2 separate regions of the Homo sapiens genome follow, and region 1 is linked to region 2. The links come from fine-mapping of genetic effects on gene expression. A gene starts in region 2. The other region holds a variant in brackets. All regions are shown on one strand. Distances are from middle to middle.

Region 1 (4,395 bases), 24 kb after region 2:
ACATTCCTTGTTATTATGAGAGTTCAGTGCAACAAGCATTCACTGAACAGGTGCGCACTGGCTCGGTGCAGCCTGGCAGGGAATAAGGATGAATAAACCGTGGCATGGACACCTGAAAGCTGGCAGTCTGGTGGAGGAGCCGAGGACAACTGATGAACTCAGTGATACCCAAAGCCCTGCCTTAATTAATGCAATCAGGGGGCCAAACCATTAAATGCAGGGTCATGTTAGTGCATGAGATTAACAAAACGGCTGGGTGAGTTCTACGACTCATGTGAGATTCAAATCTTTCCTAGCTGTGGTTTGGTGCTACCTTGTGGGTCAAGCTTAACTACTGAAGGCAGGCGAGGACTTTCAGGACAGTGACAACAGAAGTTGCAAGGACATCCTGGTTTAGAGAATACAGGGATGTGCAGTTCCTACCTCCATCCCCCTCGTTCTCCGGGTGGGCCAGCCTGCTGGCTTCTTCCTTGCCTGGCCTCTTCCCCAGCCCCTTTAGGCTTTCCTGCTGCAGAAGGGGCGTCACCCACCCCCATGATATCCCAGTTCATCCTGGGCATCATCCTGGATGTCTACTGCTCTGGTATCTAATGAGAGGGCTACTTCCCCTGTCCCCCACAGCCACCTTTCCACGTACAAGCCTAATCTGAGTAGAAGAGACTAAGTTAGTTAGATCATCGTTATACTCTAAAATACACCCACATTTAGATGGTCATCTAAAGTAAGACTAAACACGTATCTCAAACAAAATTATATTTGACTTGAGATGCTCACCTCTGGCATGTCTAAACGTGGCTGACTGATGGCTAATTCATAGATTGCCCGTGCTCTGTCAATATCACCAAGGATTGTCTCTAATTCAGCGAATTTAATCCATGAGGTACAATTTTCAGGTCCAAATTCCAGGAACTTTTCATAAAGCTTCCGGCATCTGTCAAATTCTCGAAGCTGTAGCTCCAATTCTATGTAAACTTTAAATAATTTGTTCTTTGGACATTTGCCTATGGAAGTTCCCTGGAAAATAAAATAACCAGACCACTGTGATACTGTAGTGGATTTAATCTGTGCAGTTATTGCACTGCCCTAGAGGCTGTTCTCTGCTGAGGAAGAATCTTGCAAAGTCAACATGGCCTACCATTCTTTCCCTCTGTGGTATCACAATGTTTACTGGTTCTTGACAAAAGGCTGAAGGAAACTCCTCTAATTCACTCAGCAAGAGGCAGTGTTCCAGAATTGTTTGGGCAACTAAATAAAATAAGATTTGAAAGTTTCTCAGGATCTCCTAGGGAATAGGGATGTCAAATGCATAAAACCTCCTATAAATAAAAAGGACAAGGCATGGTGGCTCATGCCTGTAATCCCAGCATTCTGAGAGGCCAACATGGGAGGATCATTTCCGCCCAGGAGGCAGAGGTTGCAGTGAGCCAAGATCGCGCTACTGCATTCCAGCTTGGGGAACAGAGCGAGACCCTGTCTCAAAAAAAAACCAAACAAACAAAAAAAAAAAAAAGAAAAAAAAAGTGGAACAATTAAAAGTGCATTTAACACACCAAAAAGTTTGCACAGGATCAGATTACTAATTCCAGTCTGTGGAAAGATTTAGTAACTGGTAGCTATAGAAGTTTCCAATATTGAAACAGAATGTTAATTTGCCCCAGGTAATAAGAATAATTTACGCATTATTAGTCAGTGTTTTTACAGAGGACGCATGTTTTCTAACATGTCCCAGGCTATAAAGGTATAATACTTCTGTCACTCTTTAAAGTAGGAACTGTACAACTTCCAAGCACCAAGATTTTAATTTCTTTCTCATAGAACTTGA[T/C]GAGACATCTTGATCCTTTCTTTACTTACCAATGCTCTTCTGGCTAATGACAGATTCTTCTGTCGTATTTCAAACTGTGCATACAGTATCCACATTTTGGCAAATGTGAACTAGAAAACAAAAGCACAAAAATATCTAGCTTAAAAGCCTCATCCAAATTAAATTGAATTAAAATTAATTTAAATTAACCAAAGCCATTGGTAATTCGATTTCTCTAAAACTTCAGAGTAAGAGGAATGTACTCTGCTTATTTACAAGCAAAGACCACATTCATTTCACAAAAGTTAGAAACCCACATACCATGATCCAGATACTATATTGTACTGCATGGCATGGTAACCTCTCCTGAGAACCATGATCCAGATACTGTACTGTACTGTATGGCACGGTAGCCTCTGCTCAGAACAGACTTTGTTTTGTAGGCATGCTTGTATATGGGCAGAATGTCCTACCTCTATTCTGAAAAGTAACTCAGTCAACACTTCTACAGAAGGAAACACGTTTTGTTTCTCGTGCTGGGAAACAAGGCGGAGGTAACATCTCAACCATCTACACAAGGGGCACATTCATCTGTGCATGCACACACTCACTGTTACCAACAAACCCGCCTGTGTGTCCCCCGCACACGTTGTGTGCTCTCTGCATGGATGTCTTTCTCCTTCCACTCAGACTATTCACATTACCTAGCCTTCTCTGAATTTATATTATTTGTTTGTCAATGCAGGTTGTCCTCCAACCTAGTCTGTGAGCTGTTTTCAGAGGCAAGGAGCATATCTCAGTCTTATTTATGTTGTCCATGGTGGGACAGGGAAGCATTTTATCAATCAATATTATTTCACTGAATTACTTCACAAGTAACAGAAGAGGATTCTGACCTGTTTGAAATGGAACACTTTAGAGCAAACATACCTTTTTGTGAGGAATTAGTTCCAAAGAGGCTTGATACACCTGTCTTGTCCTCTCAGGATCCTGTATTAGGATAAGAAATTTTCACAAAATATTGAAGTCTGCTGCTAACACTCATTTTACTAGTTACTAATTTTACTGATATTGGTAAAAATGTACACCCCCAAAACAGCATGTTTCACAAGTTGTTACTTGCAAACCCTGATTTATGATCTAAAGTATGAACGGCCATGAAACTTCAGTTTAAGAATCACCAACAAGATAGCCACCAAACTTCTAAGCCCTTCTTTGTAGAAAGCCGTTTTGCCTGATGGCAGAAAGAAACAAAGATGTTTCATAGTCTCAGATCAAACCCAGAAGGTTAATACAAATGATTTCTGAAAATGCCACTTGATTTTTGCTAAAAGCAAAAATGCATAATCTAGCCAGAATTACTCCTATTAATGAGCAAATCCAGGAAACTATATTTCACTAAATTAAGGGCTGGTTCACTGTTCTCTTTCAAGCTCCAAGTGATATCTTGTTGTGCCTCAAGTAAAAATCAAACCAAAGTTAAAAAAGCCCCTCACGTGTGGCCACAACAAGCACAGAGGGTTTAAAATGTTGCAGAGCGAATATATAACTGTATGGATGAACAGAAGCCTATAAAAATTTAAAACTAAATTTCCTTCTTTCAAGAATTACAAACATCCACAATAGGTGAGCTGTGAATACAGAAGACAGGAAACCATTATCAGCTGACACATAATTCTGTTTTTTCACCTTTGCCTCCAATTCTTCATAGAGTGCATAGTTGATCCAAAGATAAATGTAGCGCTTCCAGTGCCTCTTCTCCTGAATGGGTGGGACATTGGCAATGGCCCTTTCATAGACTTCTCTCACGGCTTCAGCTTCTGCGTCACTTTCTACCAAGCGCAAGTAATCAAACCATGCATCATAATTGTGTGGATTCGCCTAGAAAGACAACCAGTTTAATAAATAAAAAACAAAACCAAGAGCTGCACTTGCCAGGTTAAGCAAGCTGAAAAAAGGCATCAGGCTGACTTTCTATATTTTAGCACCTTTTCTTCTAAATGTTACATGTTCTTTCATTTTAAAAACACCATCCCTGAGACTGCATAAATAGAAAAGAAACAGGAATACAGAGGATAGATTACTGGCCAGGTGTCCCACAGCAAGGACTCCTTCATCTATAGCCATCACTCTCACGACAGTCAATAATTAGATGCCTATTCTTGCCAATGCATTTGCTTAAATATGTGACTATGTATCATTATGTCTGTAACAACAGAATCGTATCATGCTCACAATTGTTAAACTTGCCTTTCCAATTAATAGCAATTCATCTTTAACATATCTTGCTAACCTACCACCACATTTAATAACAGACTTAGTCCTTTGCTTGGAGGTATCTTAATTAACTTGACTAAGGAAGAGTATTTTTAAATACACAACAGAATACTGAAGGAAAATGACACTCTCTTTGAATTGAAATCAAAATAGTACATTACAGAAAAAGAGATGCCGATGGAACCCTGTCTAGCATACATCTTTTGTTCAGGCAGTTAAGCTCAAAGGTGATGTGCAAAACAGGTTTTTGGACCAATCTCTGACTCTTCCACCTTCTTCCAACAATGAGCTCGAATGGATTCCACATTTCTTTTGCT
Region 2 (4,395 bases):
CTGAGGCAAAGAGAGGTGAAATACCTTTGTTGAGAATGTGAATACCCTCTTTGTAAACTACCAAGGATGACATTATCTTCTGGGTAACCTGTGTGCCACTTTTTCACTCAGCTATTTAATCAATATTTGCTAGGCACTTACTGGCCACCCTTCGAGATGCTAATTCATAGGAGGCAATCAGCAATGGAAACTGATAACAGTTTAAAAATAAGTAGACAAACAGGAGAGAAGGGAGAACCAGCTGGTGAATATCCAGGATATTCTCTGTACTGCCCTGCACGTTCCCCTGACCCCATGTGTTGGAATGGCCACGTAGCTATAGGATATTTCTGATCTGTGCCTCAAAATCGGAATAATAATTCGTATCGGTGCTTGCAAACTGCTGGCCTACAGCATCCAGTTTCTGCAGGGTTCCAATGCTACCTTTGTGTTAAACCCACAGTGTTTTTTTCTAAAAATCAAAATCATGTTTATTCCACCATTACCTAGATACAAACATAAAGTAGCTATAAACTTCTAATGTTTATAATACCAATGAATCAGAGCCAAAAATATTATAAAAACCTTCACTACTTCATAAGGAACAAAATTCAAATCAACATTAGTTCATGTCACACACAAAAAATTATGAAACACTTTGAAATGGCCAGAAAAAGATTACTGTTTAGTACACGTTTCCAGGTTTTCTCTGCTTTTTATTGTCTTTGACAATACAAAATTTTACAAATTTGTAAGCTGAGGAAAATTGATAGTAATGAAAATTTTTCTTGTCCATAAAATACAAATGCATAGTGTTATACAGTGCCCAGGAGAGACAGTGATTACAGCTCTGTGGATATTGACCAGTTTAACACTCATGTGTAAATACATTTCAGCATTCCTGCTTGCTTTATGTATTTTATCTCTCTTTATCTTATCTTTTTGAGACAGGGTCTTGGTGTGTCACCCAGGCTGGAGTGCAGTGGTGCAATCATGTCTCAGAGCAACCTCTACCTCCCGGGCTCAAATGATCCTCCCACCTCAGCCTCCCAAGTAGCTGGGATTACAGGTGTGAGCCACTGTGTCTGGTCTGAATAAAGGAATTTTTAACTTTTAATTTTAACTACTTTAAATTTAAAAACTGATGTTTGGTTCAGCGATTTGAAAACAGTATATTTGGAACCGCTTGGATATGAGAATCTGCTTTTTAACCATACATTGATGAAATCTAAATAGAGAACAAGCATTTCCGATGACAGCTGCTCTCTCAGATTGAAATGCACTGCAAATGTAAAATACACACCGGATTTCAAAGTCTTTGCAAAAAAGAATGTAACATATCACATTCCTTTTTTTATTGATTGATTACATGTTGAGTATTGATTGGTTACATGTTGAAATGATATTTCGGGTATAATAAAGTGGGGTCAGGGAAAAATATTTTTCCCAAATAGGAAAAATAAATGGGTAAAATAAAGCGTACTATCAAAATCAATTTTACATTTCGTTTTGCTTTTATTTATTTATTATTTATTTTTGAGACCAAGTCTAGCTCTGTCGCCCAGGCTGGAGTGCAGTGGCGAGATCTCGGCTCACTGCAACCTCCGCCTCCTGGGTTCAAGCGATTCTCCTGCCTCAGCCTCCAAGTAGCTGGGATTAGAGGCGCGTGCCACCACGCCCAGCTAATTTTTATTTCTTTCCTTTTTTTTTTTTTTTTAGTAGAGAGGGGGTTTCGCCATGTTGGCCAGGTTGGTCTCGAACTGCTGAACTCAAGTGATCTGCCCGCCTTGGCCTCCCAGTGTTGGGATTACAGGCGTGAGCCACCGCGCCCGGCCTTCTTTTTGTTTTTAAACGTGGTATTGACATTTTAAGATGACATCTGCAACTCGCAACACTGGGACAAGGGATTCTGGGTCATAAATTCTCCCATTCCTCATTTACTCTGCAGCACCGGGTGGCTGCGAACTCCGCTCTTCTGCTTGGGTTTCCGCATCACCAGCAGCTTCTTTCCTTCCCAGGTGTCGCCGCCTGCTTTCTGCAGCCGCTGCCTGGGAGGGGTTCCGAGGTTCTGGGCAGCCACAGCCCCGGAGGCCTTACAGGAGCGACCTGGCAATTCCCGCCGCCGGCCGCCAGAGGAAGCTGCTTTGCTGCTGTCGTTGCCCAGCAACTCGTAGCCCGGAAGCAGTACCCCGTCTCGCTCGGTTCCGCGGCGGCCACGCTCCGGGAGACTTCCGGCAGGGCGGGCGCGGGGTCTTGGCGAACGGTCTTCGGAAGCGGCGGCGGCGCGATGACCACGCTACGGGCCTTTACCTGCGACGACCTGTTCCGCTTCAACAACATGTGAGTGACACGCGCCTAGGGCCAGCCGCTCTTGGCCGGGCCTCGCTTCCCGGCCCCGCCAGCTCCGGCCCCAGCCGCGCCTTCCCGGCCGGACCCCAAGCCCGGACGGGGACCCGCGAGAACCACCCCCCGCCGGCCAACGTGGGCGCCTCCCTGGGGCCACAGGGTCCAGGGAGAGGTGGGCCTGGAGTCGACGCACGCCGGCCTTGGCGACCTTGGCCGAGGTGCTCAAACTTTGTCTCTGGACCCTGCGAGCTGGCAGGTTCTGGGGCAGCGCTCGGGCCTCCGCTCGTGGTCGCTGTCAGGAGGCGCTGGGGTGATGGGGCGAGCTGGAGACGCGGCCTGGAGCCCACGACCTGGGCTTCTCGCCCTGCCCTACTGCTTGCTGGTTCGTGGCCGGGCCGCGCCTCTTCTGGGCAGAGGGCACCGCCGACGGCCAGGCCGCAGAGGGGGCTTGCGAGGATCGGAAGCTGGTCAGCAGCTGTTGGGATGTGTACATCGTGAAGCCCACCTGGTGGCCGTGGTTAAATTGTATCCAAATGAAATGACACTGATCACTGCGTCCCCTGCAGCAGATGCTGTCTCAGTCATGGTTAGTGTTTGCAAGTTTAGTTACTGTAGCTGCGCACCCCGGTGTACACACCTTTCCTCTGTGAGGAGTCACGGCAGATCTTAGGGGAGGCTCGCTGTGCCCAGAGCCCTGGATGCAGTTTCTTTGGATTCGAGTTAAGGCCAGACCTCTGATTTGCAGGTACCAATTTTTTTTTTTTAAGAAAACATTTTATTATGAAGATTCCCACACATTTAGAAAAGTTGGAGGAATTTCACCATGTGCTTTTATAGACACTTTTCCTGGATTCTGCAGTTAACATTTTGCTACGCTGGTATCTCTCCTTCCTTCCCATCTATCAGTCCTGGATCCACTTTAAAAAAACAACAGGGCGGTATGTGAAAACTAAGGACAAAGTGGTTCCGATTCAAGTGTCAGGAAGATGGAAAGAACTATGGGATAAGATGGCTGGGAACATTTCAAAGAGGGGGTGAGCCTTGAAGATGGATAACACATTGGTAAGTGAGGAAGACGGAAGTTCCGGAGAAGGAGCGGGGCATGAAAATGGGGAAACTTGAAGTGCGGTCAGACAACTGGGATCAGTGCGAATCTAGTGGCTGGTTTCTGCCACTGAGCAGTCAGGAAGAAATGGGTGAAACAGGAGGGGTTTAGACTTGATCCTGTGGAAAGAATTTTCTGTTGGGCCAGTCTGGTAGCTACGGTGACTTGTGTTGAACTCACTGTTCCCTGCATTGTTCTGAGTGCCCACGTAATAATCCAGTTAATCCTCACGATTCTTTGAGGTGCTGTCACCCCCATTTTGTGTATGAGTAAACCAAGGCATGGCAAGCACAAGTGAATTGGCCCAGGTGAGAATGAGTAAAGCGAGGAACTTCATCCAAGGATATTGGCTCTGGAGCAGTGGTTCTGAAAGACTTGGTGCCTGTGGTCAGGGGACCATGTTAGAAACGCACATTCCGTTTGCGATCCACTGCTCTGGAGTGGGTCTTAACCCACCTGGAGCCTCTGGAGAGGCTCACCCTCTCTTTAAAGTGTTCCCAGCCATCTCATCCCATAGTCCTTTCTATCCTCCTGACCCTTGAATCGGAACCACTTGGTTTTTCGTTTTCACTTACTGCCCTGTTGTTTTTAAAAGTGGATCTAGGATTGATAGGTGGGCAGAGAGAAATGATGAAGCCAGTGTAGCAAAGTGTTCACTGTAGAATCCAGGTGATGGATTCAAATTCTTAACCACTGAGCTCTGTGGGCTGTCATGTGATGACAGCAGGTAAACTGGGCAGGTAAGCCATTCAGGAGGCCTTGGCAGTGGCCCAGAGACGATGACTTGACAGAGGCTTCAGTTTGGGAGGTGCAGCATGGGAGGTGACAGGGTGCCTTGAAGCTTCAAGAAAAGGCAGAGCCTCATGGAGAATCAGTTTTAACTGAAGATCTAGGAAAGGACAACAGTTTTACATGGAAATGAATAGAAAGAAAATACACAGGAACACTTGCAAGAAAATATTAGA

The links. PIP is the estimated chance that this variant, and not a neighbour inherited with it, causes the effect.
Region 1: its variant is the best candidate, but not a certain one, in a credible set for the expression of NAA20 in whole blood (INTERVAL, PIP 0.63).

Annotation. Positions count from the first base shown.
Region 1 is chr20:20,038,835-20,043,229 of GRCh38, forward strand. It overlaps CRNKL1 (crooked neck pre-mRNA splicing factor 1), which reads right to left. Exons shown (of 14, transcript NM_001278628.2): 8 at 3,491-3,682; 9 at 2,732-2,791; 10 at 1,852-1,932; 11 at 775-1,014. Among named protein-coding and RNA genes, the nearest start is that of CRNKL1, 11 kb to the right of the region's middle. The variant T/C (reference allele first, on the strand shown) is at 1,823.
Region 2 is chr20:20,015,131-20,019,525 of GRCh38, forward strand. NAA20 (N-alpha-acetyltransferase 20, NatB catalytic subunit) reads left to right here and starts at 2,232. Exons shown (of 6, transcript NM_016100.5): 1 at 2,232-2,319. The coding sequence starts at 2,267. RefSeq lists enhancers at 1,739-1,918, 2,533-3,033, 3,495-4,395 and silencers at 2,239-2,308, 2,359-2,478.